Linked DNA regions of Homo sapiens: regions 1 and 2 are each linked to region 3. Evidence: fine-mapped expression QTL. A gene starts in region 3. Each other region holds a variant in brackets. All regions are shown on one strand. Distances are from middle to middle. Region 1 has its middle 210 kb from the start of STAC. Region 2 overlaps STAC (SH3 and cysteine rich domain). Region 3 holds the start of STAC (SH3 and cysteine rich domain).

What was found. PIP is the estimated chance that this variant, and not a neighbour inherited with it, causes the effect.
Region 1: its variant is fine-mapped to the expression of STAC in fibroblasts (GTEx, PIP 0.95).
Region 2: its variant is fine-mapped to the expression of STAC in blood mononuclear cells (TOPMed, PIP 0.91).

The regions. Positions count from the first base shown.
Region 1 is chr3:36,163,009-36,171,183 of GRCh38, forward strand. It overlaps the pseudogene RFC3P1. Among named protein-coding and RNA genes, the nearest start is that of STAC, 210 kb to the right of the region's middle. The variant T/C (reference allele first, on the strand shown) is at 3,662.
Region 2 is chr3:36,397,100-36,405,274 of GRCh38, forward strand. All of the region lies in intron 1 of STAC (SH3 and cysteine rich domain), which reads left to right. The region is part of intron 2 of LOC124906227 (a long non-coding RNA gene); the gene reads right to left. Among named protein-coding and RNA genes, the nearest start is that of STAC, 21 kb to the left of the region's middle. RefSeq lists an enhancer at 1,420-1,920. The variant A/T (reference allele first, on the strand shown) is at 4,648.
Region 3 is chr3:36,376,163-36,384,337 of GRCh38, forward strand. STAC (SH3 and cysteine rich domain) reads left to right here and starts at 4,342. Exons shown (of 11, transcript NM_003149.3): 1 at 4,342-4,592. The coding sequence starts at 4,482. All of the region lies in intron 2 of LOC124906227 (a long non-coding RNA gene), which reads right to left.

The DNA of each region.
Region 1 (8,175 bases), 210 kb before region 3:
AGGTCACAGTTAGGTGGATGGAGGCCTTAGAGTTCGTGGTGAGCTTGGGTAAACCACATCATTTACTTCAATCTATAAAGAAGGCCATAGAGCCCAATATGCTCCTAAACATGAGAGATTCCACCCCGGGCCCCTGATACTCTTGGCTTAGTCCCTGTAGCCACACCATCACCTGTCTCACCAATCCCAATCACACAAAAGGCCAGTCCTGAGAAGCCTCCTCTTGTTAAAAGTGATCACTCATCTTTTCCATGAACCACCAGGACAAGCCCTTTAATTCTTACACCCATCACTATCTAGGTCACTGCTGGTTGTCCAAACAACTCAAGTCATCCATTAGCACTAGGATATTTTCCTCACAGGACTCTGAACGTTCATAACCTAAGCCAAATTTTTACTCTTTACCAAGCTCCCAAGCCTTTCCATTATGCCTTCTGGAACACTTCACGTGGCATTGACAAAATTCCCAACTTCCTCAGCCTCTTTTTTATTGAATTTCCTTCACCTCCAGAGCTCATTGGCACCTGGCCCACCTCAAGGAGATTGTTTCTTTGGTAACCCTCTTAGTGATAGCTGCTTCTTTTGCTCACAACCCAAGTACTGCAGGGCCTGGAAGAGGGTTAGCTGTTCTTAATGCTTATTGCTGGATTATTTATCCTCCCTTTTCACAAACCCCCACAAGGAAAATCTCTTTATTTAAAGAGATCTGATGGCACAGGCCATCAGACCATCCAATCCACCGCCCTTCTTTGTTGATTTTTCCTGATTTCTCATCACTCCCTATTCAGCTTTTAGAAATAGCATACTACCACTATTACTATAACTATTTCTGAGATTTCTATATCCCATTAAAGTGCAAGAAATCCATAAAATAAGAGAGAGAGAATGGGAAAAGTAGAATGGAGGATAAATAAAAGTAGAAAGTAATTTAACTGACATAATAGAGAAGACACAATAACATGTGAGCTGCTGGTGGTGGTTGGGTATGAATTGCCAAAAATAAGCAAGATAACTCTCGCCATAGCCCCATCTCACCCTCAGATACACACATATTTATTACATCAGGTACTTCTGAAGTCAGGAAAGTCAGAGGGAACAGAAAAACAGAAAACGTACTTGAAAGTTTGATTAAGGAGCAGTGAGAAATCTAGATCTCCTTGTCTTTCCTAGAACCCCAAGGACCTGTCCCTCCTCCACTCTGGAAGAAGCCTGGATGTTTACTCTCCCAAGGTCTTAACTGAAAAAGCAATGGGCCTTGAGAATACGAGGTACAAGGAAGGCTGGGGGTGACGTTCCGATACTGAAAATAACGGATTAAGAGAAAATCTGTCTGCTGAAAATTGAGTCCCCAGCTCTCTCTCTCTATTCAAATCCTAAACCCCAAAGTCAGCTTTATAACAGCAAACTTGAATGGGAGGTGAAAGAATCCAAGACTGACAGCAATTGACCTTTGGCAATCCCACAAATAAATGGCCTGGGTTTCCTTCTGATCAATCTACAATGAAGTGTATCAGTTGACAGGCACTACTGCCCCACCACCATCATGACTACCACACCGTATGCCCCACAGACAAAATCACATGGCGAGTTGCCAAATATCAACTTGATGTATGTTCCTAAGAGCCTAGGATGATTAAGCATTTGAGAAAGTATTTAACATGAAGGTCAGAGAAAAAATTCAAAAAACAGAGAAAAAAACAGAAGAAAAAGAGGCAATACTCCGAATAGAAGAAAACATAAAAAGAATTAATATCCATAGGTGATAAAAAGCAAAAATAGTGCTTTGATTATATTGCAAATGGTTGCAATAAAAGGAAGACTATGAGAAAAATAAAGAAATGTTAGAGATAAAAATAGTCCAGGCATGGTGGCTTATGCCTGTAATCCCAGCACTTTGGAAGGTGAAGGTGGGTGGATCACTTGAGCCCAGGAGTTTGAGACCAGACTGGGTGACATGGAGAAACCCTGTCTCTACAAAAAAATACAAAATTAGCCAAGCATGGTGGCATATGCCTGTAGTCCTGGCTATTTGAGAGGCTCAGTTGGGAGGATCACTTGAGCCCAGGAGGTGGAGGTTGCAGTGAACCAAGATTGTGCCACTCCACTCCAACCTGGGCAACATAGCAAGATCCTGTCAAAAAAACAAAAGAAGAAAAAAGATATATTAGAGATAAAAATGATAATAACATAAATTTAAAAATGGCATGGGCATATTTAAAGATAAGTTAAGGAAGCCGAACATAAGAAAAAGTGATTACGTTCTTCTAGTATTTCTATGTCTGTTAAGGATATATAATGATGATTGTATACATACAATGCTATAGCAATAAACCACACACACATACACACACAGAAAGCATATAGTCAACTGAAGAGCAAACTCTGGATAATAATTAAAATTGGAAAATTATTAACTTACTATGCTACTAATCCCATTTACATATCAAAATTTTATTTTTATGGAAATTTTTCTTTCCTTTTTCCAATTTTAGAATAATTTTTCTTTTGTTTTCTCCAATAACTTTAATACAAGTATAATAGGGTACAGTGTACAAGTGTACTTAGCACTTTGTAAATTGCATTTTTCATAGTTCTATGTTGATAGTAGAATGGTTATGGTAATAGCTTTGTAATCTACATGAGTTTTTCAATTTTCCTTTATAAACATGTAATCAAGGCAAAAGATGTTATTTTGCTGAATAATCAATAATAGCAATTCTATAGCTCTGTGCTGTGCACATTGGGTAAATATATACATAAAAACTTATTTTTATGTCAGGTTTCAGTATCTTGTGTCTGCTTGTCTTATTTAAGGGACAGATTTTTTAACTCAAAAACAATGTGAACAAATATTCATTTTTTATAAATATATCGTATTTCACTGTTCTTTACATAGCAGTTAGTTGCATTTTAAAAGAAATCATGAGTATTGCTATTTATTTAATAATACAGTTAACAGAGCTAAGGAGGAAATTACAGCGATAATAAATGTGTTATCAGTGAAATAATTGCTCCATTGTGGCTTCCTCATTAAAGACCATAAGTCAATGAGCTGTGTGAAAGTTTGCCGCTGATTTTTTTCTGGGCACTGTATTTGCATGTTATATAAATGTCCTATTTGTACCATATGATTGCTAGAGACTCAATGAGCCATTTTAATGGCAAACAGTTAACACATTACTTTCTGTCCTTCTGTTTTACTCATGTGGTAATTGTAGAAAAAGTTTAGTTGCTCCAATGTTCTTTTAAATAATTAAATTGCTTGTTGGCTGCATTTTCCCCTTGATATAGTGAATGGTTGAAAATAATTCATCTTGAAATTGAGTAATAACCATGACTGTGTGTTACAGGCACATAACTAGTTTGGATTTTTTGAAAATGCTGTTTCAATTAGATTCAAATGGTAAATGGAGAAGTTTTATCGGCATGAGACAAACATGTTCTACTACAACTTCTTACATTACGTTCTCAAATTTATTTTCTTCTAAGAATACCATTGGTTATTTCAATGCTGAGATTCTTTGTTCAGGTATCGTATTTGAGCCAAAGTTTCTTTTGAGAATCAGCCTCTCATTGGCAAACAAGGCAGATACTGAATAAAGTCCTGGAGGGGAGGGAGGCTGTCTGAGTCACTGCTGCATCACTTCAAGGTTGGGGCTCA[T/C]GGCAGAGGTTTAACAAGTTCCAAGGAAATGACTAAGATTGGTATTCCTGAAACACAGCTTGTGACAGTCCACTGGGGCCCAGGTGGCTCTTCTGAGATGGCCTCATAGATTTAAGTTTTACACGGTCCATCAGAGCAAATAAGAGCGTATTCCTTATGTCTAACACCCTAAAGGATTTTCCTTCTCAAGTCATCCTTTATATATTCATTCTTCTATCAAGTGTCAGTAACTTCTTATTACCACTTTTTTTAACAAAGTATGCTTATATTTGCCTTTTAAATAATTTGTATAAATTCAAGGAGTAAAAAGGCAGTTTTGTTATGTGAACATATTTATAGGTGAAATAGTGTACATTGTACCCATTAAGTAATTTCTCAACCCTCACCTCTCTTCTCTCCTCTCAACCTTCTGAGTCTCCAATGACTATTATTCTACACTCTATGTCCACGTATCACTTTCTTTCTTATTTAAAAAAAACTTGTATTTTAGGTCTAGGGATATATGAGCAGGTTTGCTATATAGGTAAACTCGCATCATGGGTAGGGGGTATTGTTGTACAGATTATTTCGTTACCCAGGTAGTAAGCCTGGTACCCAATAGTTATTTTTTCTGATCCTCTCCCTCCTCCCATTCTTCACCCTCAACTAGGCCACTTTCTTTATATCTGGAATTCTTCTTGGGATCATAGGAAGATTAAACTCATTCATTCATCTACACATTCATTCAAAATTATTATTGAGTGCCCACTGTGCCAGGGACTATTCTAGGAGCTCAAAATTTGTTAGTAAACAAAGCCCCCTCACCAACCCATCCTGGTGCTTACATTGTGGGACCCAAGACAAGAGTACAAATGAATACAATTTACCCTATGCCTAGATATTTAAAAGCCATTCATCAAGTTAACAAATGACTGAATAAAATGCATTTTCTCTTCCTACCCTAAAAAATATGCCTTTATGACTTTCAAGTTCAAGTTTAGAATTCTCAAACCCCATGGAATTTCCCACTAGAACATAAGGGTCTAATGAGGAGAGCCAGTCTTCAGTCCCTGGCTCCCAGCTGAGGCCTGGGTCTCCCTCCTCTCACTCTCTTCTCCCTTCTGCCCTGCACAGGTCTTCCTGCATGTTTGTGTGAACACCTCTAACCCTGTCCAAGCTCTGTTTACACTTTCTGAGGACAACTCATGAGTATAGGGATGAACTCAGAAGGAGACCCATGGAGACCCTGGAAGCAAGCTCAGGCTCACTTGAGAAAGGAATTCCAAGGTCCTCAGTATTCATAGTATGGACTATAAAAAGGGCTAAGCTCTCTGGGTGGACAGATCCTTCCTTTACTCCACCAGGGACCAGCATTCCAGGTCTTCTCCTGTAACTACAGCACTGTAAAGCCTGACTGGATAAATCTTAGAGGTAGACCAAGTAATAAAGAAAAGTTCGCCTAGCCTAGGGGATTTTCTTTTTTTTTTTTATTTTATTATTATTATACTTTAAGTTTTAGGGTACAGGTGCACAATGTGCAGGTTAGTTACATATGTATACATGTGCCATGCTGGTGCGCTGCACCCATTAACTCATCATTTAGCATTAGGTATATCTCCTAATGCTGTCCCTCCCCCTTCCCCCCACCCCACAACAGTCCCCAGAGTGTGATGTTCCCCTTCCTGTGTCCAGGTGTTCTCATTGTTCAATTCCCACCTATGAGTGAGAATATGCGGTGTTTGGTTTTTTGTTCTTATGATAGTTTACTGAGAATGATGATTTCCAATTTCATCCATGTCCCTACAAAGGACATGAACTCATCATTTTTTATGGCTGCATAGTATTCCATGGTGTATATGTGCCACATTTTCTTAATCCAGTCTATCATTGTTGGACATTTGGGTTGGTTCCAAGTCTTTGCTATTGTGAATAGTGCCGCAATAAACATACGTGTGCATGCGTCTTTATAGCAGCATGATTTATAATCCTTTGGGTATATACCCAGTAATGGGATGGCTGGGTCAAATGGTATTTCTAGTTCTAGATCCTTGAGGAATCGCCACACTGACTTCCACAATGGTTGAACTAGTTTACAGTCCCACCAACAGTGTAAAAGTGTTCCTATTTCTCCACATCCTCTCCAGCACCTGTTGTTTCCTGACTTTTTAATGATTGCCATTCTAACTGGTGTGAGATGGTATCTCATTGTGGTTTTGATTTGCATTTCTCTGATGGCCAGTGATGATGAGCAGTTTTTCATGTGTCTGTTGGCTGCATAAATGTCTTCTTTTGAGAAGTGTCTGTCCATATCCTTCACCCACTTTTCGATGGGGTTGTTTGTTTTTTTCTTGTAAATTTGTTTGAGTTCATTGTAGATTCTGGATATTAGCCCTTTGTCAGATGAGTAGGTTGCGAAAATTTTCTCCCATTCTGTAGGTTGCCTGTTCACTCTGATGGTAGTTCTTTTGCTGTGCAGAAGCTCTTTAGTTTAATTAGATCCCATTTGTCAATTTTGGCTTTTGTTGCCATTGCTTTTGGTGTTTTGGACATGAAGTCCTTGCCCATGCCTATGTCCTGAATGGTAATGCCTAGGTTTTCTTCTAGAGTTTTTATGGTTTTAGGTCTAATGTTTAAGTCTTTAATCCATCTTGAATTAATTTTTGTATAAGGTGTAAGGAAGGGATCCAGTTTCAGCTTTCTACATATGGCTAGCCAGTTTTCCCAGCACCATTTATTAAATAGGGAATCCTTTCCCCATTGCTTGTTTTTCTCAGGTTTCTCTAGGGAATTTTTCTTTACCAATCTTGCAGATTTTGCCTTTTCTACACTGCCAGTGAAACCATCTGAACAGAAAGTTTTCTTTTTCAGGACTTTCTGATTTTTCTCTTTACTAGTAATGCAATTTCTTCAATAGAAATGGTTTAATATATAAGTTACACCCACATATACTTATTAATTATATATTATATATATATTCTCAGTGAGTTCAGCAGTTTGTGGCTTTTAAGGAATCTCTATTTCATCTAAATTGTCAAATTTATATGATTAGACTTATTTATAATATTTTCTTATCAACCTTTTAATGTCCATGAGGTCTCTAGTGATATCCTACTTCACACATAAGCAGGGCTTTTGTGAGGTTTCTGCAGGACTTTTCTGCAAGTCTATGAGTCAGTTGTGAAGGAAGATTCAGATCTTCCTTGTTGTACACAGTAAATAACACATGGTAAATATCTCCAATGCTGGGAGCAGGCACACCAACTGCCAAGCACCTACTACAAATAGGTAGTATCACATTAGATGTAGAACTGTGGCACAAGATCAATCTGTAGGTGGACATATACTTTCCCATGGTTCTTTACAAGGCATGTTGAGCATCTTTGATGAGTTTGTCAACTTCTGTCAATAATACCATTTTAAAATATCTGACAGTTTGTTTCAAGTTGCTGTGACTGAGCCACTGTTTTCAACATCTTCTGAATTACTACCTCATCAATATTTCCAGCATCACTGGGATTAACTTCAAGGTGGTAATTACTTGCAATGGTGCTAATTTCAATTTTTTTAGATGGAGTCCTGATGGTCTGGTATTTAATTCTCAATTTTTCCACTCCAACACCATAAAGTTGATGTAGAACACACATAGCACTTGTCTTTTTTCCAGAACCTGATGGTCCATACACTTAAAGGTGAGGAAACTCACCACCCTGCACCAGGTTGTATAGCTGGGCTGCCTGCTCCCTGTGATACTCCATCCATCCCAAGGATTAGGGCTGGTACTTGTCTACCCAGAGGCTCATGAAAGCTTGAGTTCCTGGGGTCTGATAAATGAAAGTCCCACATACATGTCTGTCTTTTTAATAATAACCATTCCGGCCAGTGTGAGATGGTATCTCATTGTGGTTTTGATTTGCATTTCTGAAGAGAGAAAACTTAATGCTACTTTGGTACATGAAGTTTGTATTCTGAAGTCAACTTTAATTCCACAGAGTTACAATATATTTGTAATATCTCATATCTGCCTGCCCTGAAAGGTGAGACTGTTGACTTAAAGGGCACTTTTGGCCGAGCGTGGTGGCTCACGCCTGTAATTCCAGCACTTTGGGAGGCCGAGGCAGGCGGATCACAAGGTCAGGAGATCGAGACCATCCTGGCTAACACGGTGAAACCCTGTCTCCACTAAAAAAATACAAAAAAAAAAAAAAATTAGCTGGGTTTGGTGGTGGGCGCCTGTAGTCCCAGCTACTCAGGAGGCTGAGGCAGGAGAATGGCGTGAACCCAGGAGGCAGAGCTGGCAGTGAGCCAAGATGGTGCCACCGCACTCCAGCCTGGGCGACAGAGCGAGACTCCATCTCAAACAAAAAAAAGGGCACTTCCACTTCAAGGTGTGACTACAAAGGAAACTAGGGGACATATACTAGCATTAGAAAAAATAAGTTAAACACTGATAATGAGCTTTTCTAGCTGAATCTGGCAGCCATGAGATTTTCTGCAGAGTCCAAATCCCACCTAAATCCCATTTGTCTTCTAACTAA
Region 2 (8,175 bases), 21 kb after region 3:
TTGTGTTTTGTTTTTGTTTTTTATTTAGTGATTAATCTGGTAGTTCAGACTTTTTGTTTATATTTTCTGATTCTTGGTTATGTTTCCTATAAGTCTTTTTGTCAGATACTGAGTTCCTGATAGATTTGAAATTTCTTAACTCTTGTTTAGAAGACAAATCAATTAAGCTAAAGTTGCTGGTACTGACTTATTTAATTAATACATTTTTGCTGGTTGCTTAATGTGTTGATCAGTTTACTGGTCATTATTTTCGATGGATCTGACCTTCTAATTAACATTGAAGAAATAAATTCTCAAATATAAGATTTCATTATTGTAAATATCTGAGTGGATCTTTTTAAGCTGCCATATTGGGCACTATCTCTTCTATTCAGTTATATATACTGTAAGTGAAAATGATCAAAATAAATGTGTCATGAATATGTTGCATGAGACCAAAAAAATAGCAAAAGAAGAAAAATCCAGTTTACAAAAATAAAGCATACAGTTTATGCTTCTTCCCATGAATACAAGAAAGAACATGATGTAAAATCAAGAGGCCTCATGTCAGACCACCACTCAGACTACTGAAGCCTCCAAATTGTGCAGATATTTAATCATTGTGAAAAATCTTCCTTCCAGGAGGAATAACTTCAATCCACTTTGGATCACCCAAGTGCTCTTAGAATTTCAAGGATTTTATGAGCTTGTCTGAAAAAGCAATATAAGTTGTTTCATATGTTATTTCTTTGTTCGTTCTTGTGGTTAGGATTATTTTGGCAAAGTTTATTTCATAGATTGCCGATAGGATGACTTTTGCATGCAGCAGGCAGCAAAAAAAAAAAAACCTAAGCTCAATTTGTAATACATTATAGTGTTGATGATGGGAGATATTTAAAACTTGTGTCTGAGGAGCCAAGAGCAAAATGCCAAGCCATCTAGCTCCATGGCAGGATCTTTCCTGGCTCTCAATTGGACCTTCACTGGTAAGTTTGTCCATAGCCTGGTTGGACAGCTAAATGAAGAGCCTGAATCTAGCTCTCTGAGCCCGTGCATCTGGTTCCCAGACTCTGGGCAGCAGCTGTGAAACAGAAGGAAGCTCATGAAGAGAGCAGCAATTTGACCTCATCCCCTGATGGTCAGACTAAAATGTTACCTGCCAGTTTATGAGCTTTGTAGTAAGACTATTTTACTGCCATCTATGAAGGTATGTTAAAAAAGAAAGAAAGAAAGAAAGAAAGCAAGAAAGAAAGAAAGAAAGAAAGAAAGAAAGAAAGAAAGAAAGAAAGAAAAGAAAGAGAGAAAGAAAGAAAGAGAGGTAAAGAGAAAGAGAGAGGGAAGGAAGGAAGGAAGGAAGGAAGGAAGGAAGGAAGGAAGGAAGGAAGGAAGGAAGGAAGGAGGGAAGGAAGAAAGGAAGGAGGGAAGGAAGAGAAAAAGAAAGAGAGAGAAAGAAAGAAAGAGAGGTAAAGAGAAAGAGAGAGGGAAGGAAGGAAGGAAGGAAGGAAGGAAGGAAGGAAGGAAGAAAGGAAGGAGGGAAGGAAGAGAAAAAGAGAGAGAAAGAAAGAAAGAAAGAGAAAGAAAGGAAGGAAGGAAGGAAAGAAAGAAAGAAAGAAAAGAAAGAAAGAAAGAAAGAGAGAAAGAAAGAAAAGAGAGAAGGAAGGGAGGGAGGGAAGAAAACAGTCACCCATCAGATCATATCATCTGACTTGAAGGAGCCTCCTTCTGACATACAGGTTGCTGTTGCTGTGGAAGGTATTGAGTTCAGATTTTCTATCATCCCTTATTCCTCACCTCTAGTTGAGGTCTCTAAAAAGCAGAGCCTGAGGTTCAGAAGCATATAATTCATGGAAGGTGTGCTGTCAGGAGAAAACCCTAGGTAGGATACAGCAGGAGAGAGGGCTGAACAAGAATGTGGTCTCACGTGAAGTCTTACCTTGGCCTGACCCACATGGGGTACAGAGTGCACCAGAGTTGCCCCTCCCTTAAGGAAATATGGCAGGACTTTTTTTTTAACTTTGTGTCAGCTAGTCTTTGGCTCTAGAAATGGAAGAGGGAGGGGAGTACAATCTCCCAAAGGGGACAGTTCCCATTAGTTGAGGGTGATTCTCTAAAGGAAGAGAGATCTGCCTGCCAAAGCCACTGGGAGACAGGGCAAGGGCCCCAACAGGGAGGGTCTGGATTGGGCACCCACAGCACCCTCTACAGTGGGTTCCTGTCTGTGCCTCTTTAGCCAGAGCAGTCGTTTCCCTTTTCCATGCTCCAATATTCGGAATTTTATTACAATTTTTGCTTCAAAAGAAGAGTGCTGCATTTGACAATGGGTTGATAGACACCTGACATAAGTCTATAAGGGCTTTTGGCCCTAGGAACTGGGTGGTTACCCCTAGCACGACACTGAGTAACATAGCAGAAAGTGTGAACTATAGATTTTCAGGGAGGGTGTTTCCTCTCAGAAAACACCATTTGGAGGGGAGGGATAGCACTTGGCAAGATTTCATTTGGCCAATTTAAAGTGCTGAGTGATGGAGGACAGGTGGCCCAGCTGCCCTGCTCTCCTAAGACAGCCTTAGTGATCTTGTCCCCTCATATGGCCATCCTTCAATCTAAAATAACTCAATTTATTAAAAAACCATGGCTCTAGGGTAACTTACTCGAGAATCTTGGAAAAATTTCAATTAAATTGACTCATATACATTCAGTTTTTTAAAATGGTCTCCCAACTGACACTGAAGTCATAGATAAATCAAAGCCCAGATCTGGAGTCAACCTGGATTGTGCCTCAAGGTTAAGCCAGCTTTGACCAGCCACTGCTAATTCTACGACTTAGGCAGCCCCAGGCAAAATGGAGGCACTCATGTGCAAGTGCTTTGGAAAACACTGAAGGAAATTAATAAATGGAAAGAAAGGATTAAAGTACTTAAAAGGGGGTGGGTTGATGCCCCGGTCGAAAGAGGTACAAGCAGTAAAGTAATAGTGAGTGACCTGTGGAAGCTTTCCTGCTCAAGACCCAGCACTAAACACTTTGCTTTCAATGTCTCATCCCCTGCGAGTTTCTCAGTTTCACACAGGATAAGTAGTTCGTTGTCAAATTCAGGTCACCTGACTCCCAAACCTGGGCTACTATGTTTCAGATTCAGATAGATAATAGAGAGATAAATGGATAGATACAGAGATAGAAATATATAAATAGACACACAGCACTTGCTGCTCAGCTACTGTCAAATGGTCATTTGTCCACGTGTTATATAACTATTCGAGAGCCTTAATGGAGCATTCTGAATCTCATTTCACTGAAAATATAATGTAAAGGAACATTTGAAATCATCACAGATAACCCCATGATTTTAGGGTTGAGGGAACTGAGGCTCACAGAGCTTGAATTATTCTCGCAATAACACACACATACTACAAGCAAAATCCACAAGACAGAATATTTAGACCTATACGCTGGGTTGGGACATTCTATAATGACCTTCAAGAATGTTATAGAGCAGTTGGCTGCAAACTGAAGTGCATCAGAATCACCTAGAGGGCCAATTGAAACACAGATTATTGGACTTCATCCCCAGAGTTTCTGATCTGGTAGGTACTGGGAGAGAGCTGAGATTTTGCAGTTCTGACAAGTTTCTGCTGATGCTCGTGCTAGTAATACAGAGACCAGACTTTGAGCACCACTGCCATAGAAGTAAATACCTACTCTGAGTGCCTGTGATATCCATCCTATTTGTTTATTGCTTTGACCATAATTACGTGCAAGTGTTCTCTTGACCCAGGCTTGTCTGTAGATATTCCCTTCATATGAAAGGGCTCCGATTATAGCCTCTGTCACTCCATGGATGGCCAGAATTAATTCATGTAGCAAGGAGGAAAGTGCCAGGACCATAATGGGTTAGTCCAACCTTTCATACACCATCCCTTCTTCCCCAGCTGTGGACTTGGTTAAAGAAGGCAAAGGATGTCGGCTTCATATGGCTGAGATTAGCTCACTGAAACCTCCCTATAATGTTTTGTGTTTATTTTGAAACTACTCAGGAGTCAAGCCTCTAAAAATGTACCTATGTTTACATTTTGGAGTCACTTTTTGTGGAAAAGAGTCTCCATTCCTTCTGGAAATAAAGGAACAGATGGTCAGCCAGGTCATGAAAGAGGCAAAGGGAACCTCCCAGCTATGCATTTCCTTGGCAGGGATTTCACATTGAAGGACACACTCTTGTTCATCCACAGCATGAGCCTGCCTTTTCCAGTATATTCTTAGAGGGTTTCTTATGCTCAGTAAAATGCTCATTCTTTTAAAAGTCATTAACAAAAAGGCAATGAGTTGCTTTATTTCCAAAACCTTGCAGAAAGCTACCTTAAGGACCTCGATAGAAAATAACCAGTGTGTCAAATTGGAACTATAGTTAGAAATGCTGCAGGGAACCCAAGGAAGCCCGCACTGGCTGCTTTAGGAACTTGGGTAGAAATCACACTGGAAGAGCTGCAGCCATAGACAGGATTCCCCAGCTGCTGTCCTTGGGCACCTGGGAACCTGCTTCCTCCCTGTCTACTAGCAAGACAGAAATATGAATTGTTTAATGAATTGAATCACAGAAGGCAGAGCCAGATATATAATTTGCGGGGCCCAGTGCAAAGGGAAATCGGAGCTCCTTGCTCAAACATTTTGAAGAA[A/T]TTCAAGACAGCAATAGCAAAAAGCACTAAACCAAACTTGGGGTCCATCTAAGTGCTGGGCCCCATGTACCCACACACAGATCTCATCCACGAAGCAGGTCTGCAGCATGATCATCATGGCACAGTTTGGCAGAACAAGAGAAAGGGAAGGGGAAAGGGGATGGACATTTCACTTGGACTTGCTGTGCAAGGTGATTTAGGTACATCATTTTATTTAGTCTCATTTCACAGATGACAAAACTATAGAGGTGGAGGCTGAGAAAAGTAAAGCCGCTTGCCCATGGTCACATGCCTGATATGTCTACACTGAGATTCATTTCTGACTCTAAGTCCCTGTTTGTTTGTTTGTTTGTTTTTGTTTTAAACTTTTCCACATTCATATTCCTGAAGCAGTATTGGCTTGTAGGAAAAGCTCTTACATATGTTTTTAACTTCTATTCCCTACAAAGCCAAAGAAAGAGTGAATAATGTAATGAATAAGATAATTAGAAAATGGTCCAAATCCTGGTATAATGATAATAATAAAAGTAGAAACAAGACATGGAGGGGAAGAAGAAGGAAGGAAGGGAAAAGGGAAGGGAAGAGCGAGGAAGAAGATGGGGAGAAAGAGGGCGGTGAGGAAGAAGGAAGGTGAGCATGTGCTGGACAGTTACTACATACGATCTTGTATGCATTATTCTGTTTAATCATCACAACAACCCTCTCAAAGAAGCCTTGGTTTTGTGCCCACTCTACAGATGCAGAGCTAGAAGCTTACAGCACTTAGTTAACTTGCTCAATGCTAAAGGCTCAAGATTTCTGTCTAAACAACATCTAACATTAGCCTAGGAAGTCACCCAAAATGGATTTAAGGGCTAGGCAAGGGAACAGAGTCCAAGATAATTCTAGACTTCAAAAGTTGTAAACTGCAAGAAAATAATAATAATAAACAGAAGGCAGCTCTATACAGGAATAATAAGAAGGAGTATAAATGAAAACATTCAAATTCCAGAGTAAAAGCCTCCATACATTGGCATTTGTGGGAGTCTCCATCCTGCCTGCTTGATCCCACCCACGTATCCTAAAGCAAAGTTGGCCTGTCCGTCTTCCCACCTCAGATGGATTCAGGGGAATTATCTACTCAGAGTCTTATCTGCAGAGGAAACTCATTCTAGCTACCCATATGATCAAGCTAGTTATTCACCCTTAAATATGAACAGACAACTAAAGCATAAACCAAAAGGACCACTGTGCACAAACCAAACAGCTAACCCAGAGAAATAAGACGTAACACAAGGATTATGGCTAGCCTTGAAAACTTTCTAATTGATATCTTCAGAGAGATTCAAGAAGTATTGTGACCATTTCAAAGGAACTGTTTTTTATTTCTTTTAAAAAGGTACAATCAATGCCTAGGAATGAATTTTTTGGAAAAATCAGATTTCTGTCTAATTTTTTTGTCAGTTACAATAAGTAATTTAAAAACAATCAATGCAAGGCCTGAAAAATAGAATGAACAATTCTGAAGACTGAATCAGATAAATGAAAGATAAAGTTGGAAAATCTCCCAATACATAGAACAAACGACAGATAATTAATAAAAGAAAGGTCTTGAAATATTGAAAGTTGACACAGGTCAACCAGTCAGTCATCTCCACTGGGAAAAAAACAGTTTGTTTTTTTTTAATTCTCAATTTTCTTCTATTTTTATTTTTAATTATCTCTTCACCTCCATTTTAGTGGAAAATTTTTTAATAGAAAAAAATTTTAAAAATTCAGTAGAAAAAAAGTTATATGTTCAAATTGAAAGGACTCAATAAGGAATGAGCAATGAAAGTAAAATAGAAGTGCCACACAGTAAAAGCAAAAAATGTAAAAATGATATGTGAAAAAATGAAAAATAAAATGGAAAGAATTCTGCATACACAATTAGTAAAATCATGTGACATTTATAAACTACAAAAATAGATAAAATCCTTAATATTTCCAGAAATTAAGAAACAGGTGACCTTATCATGATGAAACTCAGAGGGGCATCAAACTGAGAGTAAAAGTCAAGGGTGCCATGGTTTCAGATTCTGAGCAGAAAGTCTATTCATTCTGGAATCTGGAATCCAATACTGAGTCATTTGAATGACTCTGAAAAAAACAAGTCATCAACATGTCTCCCAAAAGAGCATAGATAGAAATTAAATCCTGGATAAAGCACTAACAAAGCAATTTTGCACAGTGACTCTGACTTGAAAGGTATTTTATATTTTATCTTGTAACACAACTCTGTATGCTACAAGCTCAAAATACAAAACACAAATTCCATTAAATTCCTTTACACCAACAATACCTATGACACACCTATGAATATCTCTAACAAGAAATATGTAGGTCCTATGTGAAAAAACATGCAAGCATTATGGAAAAACAAATAAGGAGATCTAAACAAATGGAAAAACATGACATTTAGATGAGAAGACTCAATATTGTAAAGATGTCAATCACCCTAAATAAATATGTAAGCTCAAGTTGATTCCAATCATATACCAACAAGTCTTTTTTAAAATGCAAATTGACAAATTCAGTCTACCATTCTTCTGAGGAAATTAATGGCAGATTACTTAAACTTTCTAAGGCACATTCTCTTCCCGTGTAGTATTGGGATCATAATGAAACCTATTTCAAAGGGTAATTGTGAGAATTAAATGAGATAATACATGCAAAGCACTTAGCACAATTACCAGCTGATAATAGCACCCACAAATCTTAGTTTACATCATATTATGCTCATGTATATAAATACTCATATGTATGATAATGTTCATGCAGCAGTATTTATAACAGCAAAAATTAGTAAGGCCTCAAATTTCTATCAGTATCATAATTATAATGATTAAGTACAATATACTATATCCCACAGCATGGAAAAATATTATTAAAATTTGTTATGAATATGCCTATAATCTGACATGAACAAAGAAAGTCACAAAACAACATGTGTACACATTCATGTAAAAAATATATAAAAATTGGTAAATAGATGATAGATGTTTTTAAATAAAAGTAAATATATGTTAGTAAGTTCACAGAAATGTTTCTGGAATTATACGCACCAAACTGTTACCAATTGTTTGTGTATAGAATACAAAGATTGATGATATTATAAATTATATAATATACAGCTATTATATATTCTTTATTATAAATGCATCTATTAGGTTGGTGCAAAAGTAATTGTAGTTTTTGTCATCACTTTAAATGGCAAAACCACATTACTTTTGTGCCATCCTAATATATTATCTGAAAAATTTAAAATATCATACGATTCTTGTTTACTTTAAAACTATGAAATAGGAAAGGACAGTGTTTTCAGGTTGTAGTTGAGCTTCAGGAGATCCCTGTGCCAGCAGGGTCGCCCTCAATGAAGAAGGAGGCTTGCACCAAGCTGCTGGCCTCACCTTGGGGCCACCCATGCTTAAACCCGAATGCAAACCCCTCAGCCACCAATTCTCTCTTCAGCTTTATCTCCATTCCTACCTGAGCTTGCTACCCCTGACT
Region 3 (8,175 bases):
GTATCTGATTTGCCCTCACAAAAATGAGTCTCCCAATTAAATTATTAGCTTTGATTCTGAGAAGAGACCAATCATGAATTGCTATGAGACCATAACGAAGCCTAGCATTAGCAGCTGTTCAAAGTAAGAGGTGGTGGTGGTTGCGGTAGTGTCAGTGGTTAGACTTTGGGCAAAGCATTTGGTTTCTCTAAGCTTGAAGGCAGATCCATTAGGCTGGATCTAGAGGGTGACAAGTGATGCTAATAGTGGATGCCAGCTGGGCCCAGTGGCTCACGCCTGTAATCCCAGTACTTTGGGAGGCCGAGGCAGGCGGATCACGAGGTCAAGAGATGGAAACCATCCTGGTCAACATGGTGAAACTCCATCTCTACTAAAAATACAAAAATTAGCTGGGCTTGGTGGCACATGCCTGTAGTCCCAGCTACTCGGGAGGCTGAGGTAGGAGAATCACTTGAACCTGGGAGGGAGAGGTTGCAGTGAGCCGAGATCGCGCCACTGCACTCCAGCCTAGGTGACAGAGCAAGACTCCGTCTCAAAATAAAATAAAATAAAATAAAAAATAAAAAAAAGTGGATGCCTCTTGCTTACATTTGTCTAGACTTCTTGGCTATCATCTCCAAAGTGTAGAGATGCTCATTATTTACTTTTAAGACAAAAGAATGGAATGGACCACTCTTCATTATTTGGGAACTTGCCCTGTGCCTTCTATTATGCCTCTGGCTCTCAATTTGCATTGCTCCTAATCTTTAAGGCCTGCTGCCTTTTCAGGACATCCGGGTTCTGCTGTTGCCTAGGTGGCAGCAAACCAGAGCGGCCAAAACTTGGCCCAGGAGCAGGATATAACTGAGTCCTTCCTAAACTGTAGAACCTAGGATAATTTTCTTTATCTTGCTAAGGTTTCATAGGGATTAAATGAAAGAACAAATATACAATGTCTATGATGTATTAGAAACCCAATACATGTTAGCTATTATTGTTATCAGCAACCTACGCCTTTCTCGTATACTGTGTTATATTGTGTATCCATCATGACTCTGATGCATCACGCATGGAGAGCCATCCCTTCCTTGAGATCCTCTCCTTTATCCTCAACAGTTCTCCATATTATCTTCCCTCTTCTTTTTTCTTGTTGTTCTTTTCTGTACCCTTCATAAGTATATCTGTTCTATTTAAGAAGTCTTACTAGTATCTTTTTACCAAATGGCTCTATAAGAAGCCAAGGTCCATAGGATGAAATCCAGTCTCTTTATACAAACTCAGAACAAAGAAATGAGAGAAGGTTAGCAGCATTACACAGTCTTCTGCTTAACGGTGTTTACTGTGAAAGGCCCTTGGATGCAATCAGGAGGAGGCCTTTGCCCTCTTTACAAATTAATGAACAAGTAAATGAACCAGAAGTGGGAGCTTCCAGTTCGAGTTTGTGCAGATAAATTTCTGTACACCTCACACTTCTGCTGGCTTGATATTTACCCAGAAACCAGAGTGAAATAGACCATGAAGGGGATCTACAAAAATCACAAAGCTACAGACTTGAGACTTAGAATAATTATTCACAACCTTTTTTCCTCAGGCTTTACCAGACTGCAGTAGAAATGAGAAATCTTGACAACCATAGCTAAAATGTCATAAAGCTTCTAAGGCAGAATTTCCAGTCTTCTGTGAGGTCTCACCTAAGCATTCCTGGGTGTCAGATGGGGTATCTCACACATAGCCATGAAAATGTACACTTCTGCTCAGGGATATCAATGCTTCATGAGGGGTACTCTGGGGATCACTTTGCTGGTCTACCATCTACTGACTCAAAGCACTGACAAATCCCATTGTTTTACAGAAGCATTCAGAGTCTTCTTCCATTCAGTTTGTGGAGGACACATGCAATAATTAATGCCTAGACCATTTCTAGAGCTCAGGGGCTACAAGGGTAGCCTCTTTTCACCACCTTGTTAACAAGCATTATACCAGGAGCTAGAGAAACAAGATGAACATGGCATTGCCCCTGCCCTAGGGGAGATCATAGCCCAACAGAAGAGCAGGCAACCTTGTCATTGATTACTTAGGAAAGGAAGTCATGGGAACATGGCATTGATTTGGGAATCTAAATCAGATAAATGGGTCAAGGAAGGAGATGTCAAGAGTAGTAAATACTTGGATATGTGATTTGAAGAATAAGATAAGTTAGCTAGATAACAAAAGATCGGATAGAAAATAATGTGAAACTAACACATAAACAAAGGCGTGATTTAGTTTGGGACACCATGGCTAATTCCTATGGTAGGTATTATTTATCAGACTAAGGATTTCTGCTGCTGGATCAGGGTGGGGTGGAAAGGAAGGAGGTACTAGCTTCTCTAAATTTCCTTCAAGGGACAACATTTAAACATATACTATTGGCTAATACTGTTGCTAACTTGAGCTAAGCACTTACTAAAAGTAAGGATGACATCTTCAATTCTTAAAAAAAGAAAATCCAAAAGAAAAAAAGGATGAAAAATTTATTGTTCTAAGCCATGACATGCTTGCTCACCAAGACTGGAATTGCCAGTAGACCCTGGGAGTTTTGTTTCCTAAGAAAACCCTCGTCTGGCCCCATGCTAGCTCAGGCTTCATTTGTACACACTCATCAAAGTCTTGTACTTTCCCTTATCATAGTTTTTTTTTAAATGTGTGTGTGATTTAATTAATTGCTGTCTCTCCCACTAGACTTAAATTCCAGGAAAACAGACTTAATCTGTGTTTTCTCTCTGCTGTATCATTAGTTTCTGGCACAATTCTGATACAGAATAGATGCTTGATAAAAATGTGTTGATATGGCTGCTCCTGTCATTGTGTTTGTGACTTTGGCTACTAGAATTCTGTCTCTATCGAACACTCAGGCATTGTGTTGTGAGAAGGAAAAAGCTGAAGCCATTTGGGCTAGCCAATCTGGCCCCGTACTGAGGGTCACCAGAAAATTTAGAGCATTTTGAAAGCTAAATGCTGAGTAAGAGGCTGACACATTGAACAGTAGCTTTCAATTGACATCTGGGATGGAAAGAGTAAGAGCAAGTTTATTCTAAAAGACATGAGCTAGGGCATGGATGCAGGACCAAACACATAATTTGCAGGGTCAAGTACAAAATGAAAATGTGATCTCTTGTTAAATATTTTTACCGAATTTCAAGATGGCAGCATCAGCGCGGGGCCCTGTGTGACTGCACAGGTTGCACATCCATGAAGCTGTTCTTGCAAACATCTACAGCTAATTTTAAAAATCTGAACAGAAGTTTGCAATTTTGTTTTAAAAAATTGAGGGTATTTTGTATTAATGGGGGAAAAGAGGCTTTTAAATATCTAGGTGTGTTTCTTTTCCCTGCACACTGAGGTTGTCTTCAAAAGAAACTGGACCCTCTGTATCTTTATTCAGTGGGGCTATTCCTATGTTTCCAAAAGATTTAGTAAGGCAGGCTGGTTTGCCCCTCTGTGAACAGTCCTCAACTCTTGCTATACTGCAACATCCAATTGCTCTTCAGCCAAGACCTGGCCTAGATTTGAGGCTCCACAGTCGGAAATGCATGGATTTTGAAGCCCAAATGTGTTCGAATTCCAGTTTCACCAATTATAGTTTAGTGACTTAAAGCAAATTACTCAGTCTTCCTACAGCCTCAACTTCCTCATCTATAAAATGGAAGTGATAATCCCTAGACGCATAGAGTAGCTGGGAGGATTAAATAAGGTAAAAAGAAAGGGTTTAGTACAATAAGTGCACAACAAACGAGGAACAGGTGTCCATATACACACTGCATTATCTCTCTGCTTTAGATCAAAGCTGAATGGAGAAAACGCAGTGCCCGTGAGTCAGGGGACCCCCACTCCGACCCCTGCTCTCTGTCACTGAACCCTATAAATAGCTTAGCTAAGTCACTGTCTCAGTCACTATTCGTTGGGGTGAGGAATGAGGGAGTTGTTGCAAGTGGCTCTTTCTGGCTATATCATTCACAGATTTTCTATTCTTTGGGGTTTGGGTCTGAATTTTCAGCATCCTCTCTGAAGAATCACCCCCACCCAGTGCCGGCGTGCGCCCAGCCTTCCCCCAGCCCTTTCCAGGGCGCTGCCCCCTGCCTGCCCTCACTACTCCAGGCGCTGGCCGCGCAGCCCCGCCCTGGAGCTGCCTCCCCGCCTCCTTCCTCCTCCTGCGGGCGAGCAGAAGCCCGCTCGCCCGCTGCCGAGTGGCAGTCACGACTGTGAGGTCGCCGGCGAGGTGGCCGCGGGCGCGGCGGGGCGGGGCAGGGCGCACTCTCCTCCACGCCCGCGGAAGTGCCGGGGAGGTGGGCAGGGCGGGGAGGGAGAGGGAGCGAGGCTGGAGGAGGGCACGTCGGCGCCTCGGCGAGGATGGGAGTCCCCAGGACCCGGAGCTGAGCAGCCTGGCGCGCGGCGGGCAGGGCGCGCAGGACAGAAGCCTCGCTGTTCCTCCGGGAGCCCAACACCGTTCCCGCGCGGCCACGATGATCCCTCCGAGCAGCCCCCGCGAGGACGGCGTGGACGGGCTGCCCAAGGAGGCGGTGGGCGCCGAGCAACCGCCCTCTCCTGCATCCACCAGCAGCCAGGAATCCAAGGTACCGAGCACGCTTGCCCCCAAGAGAACACAAACTCACTCTCCTCTCCTGTCGGTCCAGCTTTGTCTCTCCTCCTATCTAGCACGGGCGTGGGGGTCTGAGACTTGCTAGTTAGCCCAGGGCTGTAGGACTTGAACGTCCGGTAGGACCCGCTGCTCACGATGCTGGACCACGTCCCTGTGGACCCAGCCTTCCCGCCCACACATTCACACACGCAATTCATGGTGGCTCCGGGTTCAGAGATCGATTTCTTGCGGGGTGGTAGCTTGGTTTTTTTTGTGCTTTGAACCTGCTTGTGTCCAAAGCACGTGTAGGTAGGTATTAGGTGGCTTCTGAAGGCTGAGGGATGGAGACAGCCGAGGGATACTCTTCCAGAAAAGCTTGAGTACTGGGCCAGAAAAGCATGTATGTATCCCAAGGGTCTCAGAGACCTTTTGCTTAACAGGGATCACCCCTACCTTCAGATACTACTCACTAAAAAAGAAAAAGAAAAAGAAAGGGTTTGCCTGCGTTTGTCTGAAAGTTGATGTTCCTCTTGTGAAAGTTAATACTCTAAGAACCTATACTTGCTTTTATGAAAGTTACACTAACACGTATACAAAAAACCAAGCCCGCAGCAGTTCTCCTGTCACTGTTACACTTCCTCTGAAACTCCCGTGGGTGCCAGGCACATGTTTGAAAATCTTGGAAGAGGATAGAGTAAAATGTGGCTGCTAGCAGTGCAATGCCAAATGGCAACTCAGCTGGTGGTGGAAATCCTAAGATGGAGTTTGTAGTTATGTGGATTCTTTTAAGTGTAGAGCTCCTGGCTCTTTATTCTGATTTCATTGTGCGATCCCCAGGCATTTGGGGAATGTGAGGCAGTCCGTGTATACCAGCAAAGGAAAGGGGTTGCCAGTTTATAGGATAGGGACAGGCCAGATGGGGCAAGGAAGACTGCGATCCTGTCTCTCTTCACATGCATCCCTGGAAGCCATTGATATGATCAGGAGGATGAAAATCACAGCCTGAGTGGCTCTGGGGATTTGGTGTGATACTGGGCACTGTACATTTCCCAGCCCCCTGAAGTTAACCATCAATGATGGTAATCTAAGCCCGAAAGCTTTACATCTTATTTATTTTTATTTTTTTCCTGTTACTTACTGGCTGCCAGACCTGGGGTATGTGTGTCAACTTTTCTAAAACTCGGTTGGAAATGAGGGAAAAAGCCCCAACTTCCAGAGACATTGTGAGGAGTACATGAGAGGCCCTAATGTCCACCTGGTATACTGTAAGGACTCAATCATGTTTATCCTTTTCCTTCCTGAGATAAAGAGATGGAATCTATCTCATCTCAAATGATCCACTCCAAAGCAATCTGATAACCCATACACATGCACTACCTCTCCTCAGTCAAAAAGTTTCTGGGTATCATTGCCTCCCATTGAACATCAGTCCCCAGAGTGATATAGGTTAGTGGCCATTTTAGAGGAAAGCTAGAATTCTATAAATGAATGTAGCTGAACTCAAGAGTAAAACTAGTATTGAACTTTTTGAATTGGCCTGTTGCTCTGCAGTAGGCGTGTTCTGGAAAGGGCTTAGCATTTGGGCAAACAGTGGCATGGTTCAAATGCATTATATGGATTTGCTATTTATAGATGTCCTAATGGAAATTATTTGGCAGAGCAAAAGCCACATATGTAATGCCCATAATTATCCACCAATTTATCTGGCTTATGGTTTTGTACAAATTAGTTTTTCTCAAAGTGGTCTATACACCGGATGTGTGTTTCTACATTCCTAAATTTGATGTCATGGCCTCAGTAAGCTTAATTAGTGGAGATGAACTATGGCAGCCCATGAACCCTAGGAAATTGAATGCAATATTGTATGCCTACATGTGAATTTTTCTTGGCATAGCATTCATGATATTCTCAAAGTGATCCATGCCCCTTAAAAAAGGCTAAACTGCTAGTAGGGAGGAACGTGTGGTAAGGTAAGGGAGTAGGATGGCATGACACTGGAGGAGAGGAAGGCTCAATTCATTCTATTCTAGGAAGGCCACATGTTAAAGCTTACTGGCGTTTACAAGGATCTTTGACCCTGAGCATGAGAGCTTGGTGAGGAAAATGTGAACAAGACAGTAATATGCATTCCATCTTACTCTTCCATGAAGTGGTCTTGTTTGTAAAATATCTTGTGGGACAAACATGGTTCAGGCCCCCTTGGCATTAAACTCTCTCAAGGAAGACTTAAAGTTACTTTTTTTAAAGAGTTAGGTTTTTTTGTCTTATTATAAGAGTAACAAATACTCTTTGTAGATATTTGAACAGTCCAGACATAAATGATGAAAAGAAAAATAAATTAGCTCTTGGTTTACCATCCAGAAGCATCTACTAATAAAACTTTGATCTATATCTCATGTCTTTTTAAATCTGTTTATATATTTACATAGTTGAGCGAGAACAATAGTGAGCATCTACTGAATGTTTACTGTAAGTCAGATACAACCTTAATCTTCACAATAGAAGATTCTGTTAATATTTCTATTTTATGGATGGGGAAGTGGAAGCCAAGAAAGGTTAGATCATTTTCACTGTGAAAATTTATTATGGAAAATTTTAATATACACAAAAGTAGAGAAAACAGTATAAAGAACTGTCATGGACCTAATCATGTGGCTTCACAATTAATTCATGGACAGTATTGTTTTATGTATTACCACCACCACCACCACCCTACACATACTGGATCATTTTAAAGCAAATTCCAGACATGAAATAACTTCACCCGTAAATATGCTATCAGGTTACATCTCTCAAGGATAAGGGTTATTTTCATTTTATTTTCATAAACATGACTATAATCCCAATTAGCACATATTTCAGGTGTTTTAAGCTAAGGGCCACTATATTCTTTAGAAGCCCACAAATAGTCTTTGGAAAATCTGTGAACAACCCGAACCAGCATTCAAAGTTGTCCATGTACATGCATATATGCATCATCTAGGGAAAGAATTTATAGCTTATCTCAGGTTCACAAAGGGTCTATAGCTTCAAAGGTTATCTTAATGTCCTTTTTCTCTTTCTTGAGGAAATTGAGGCCCAAAAAGGGGCAGTGACTTGCCTGAGATCACACAGATAGTTACTGGCAATACCCTTACCTACAAACCCCGTCTTGGACTTTGGTATCCCAGTACAGTTTCCTCAGAGCAAATTTCTGTAAGCACAAGTCATAATATAGTTTAATGTAATTGTGGGTTTTCTTCTTTATGAAATTAGTTGAGTTGAATAAGTTTGAAAGCCACTGATGTATCATACCCTTCTATCTTCCCACTAACTATTTCAGAAAGATGACAGCCTAATTTATTTTTTAAGGGCTTGACAGAGACCATTGAATATAAACAAAAATTTCATGTCCCATTATCCCTTATTTCAATGAATATCTTTTCTCCTACTGACTTATTGACAACATAGAAAGCTTGCTAGTGTCTAATGTGAAGGTTTGCTATAAATCTCTTTGTCATCACTTATATGACACAAGGTCACATTTTGATGATATTGAGGAATCACACCTCAATATCATCAATATCAAAGGTGAGATT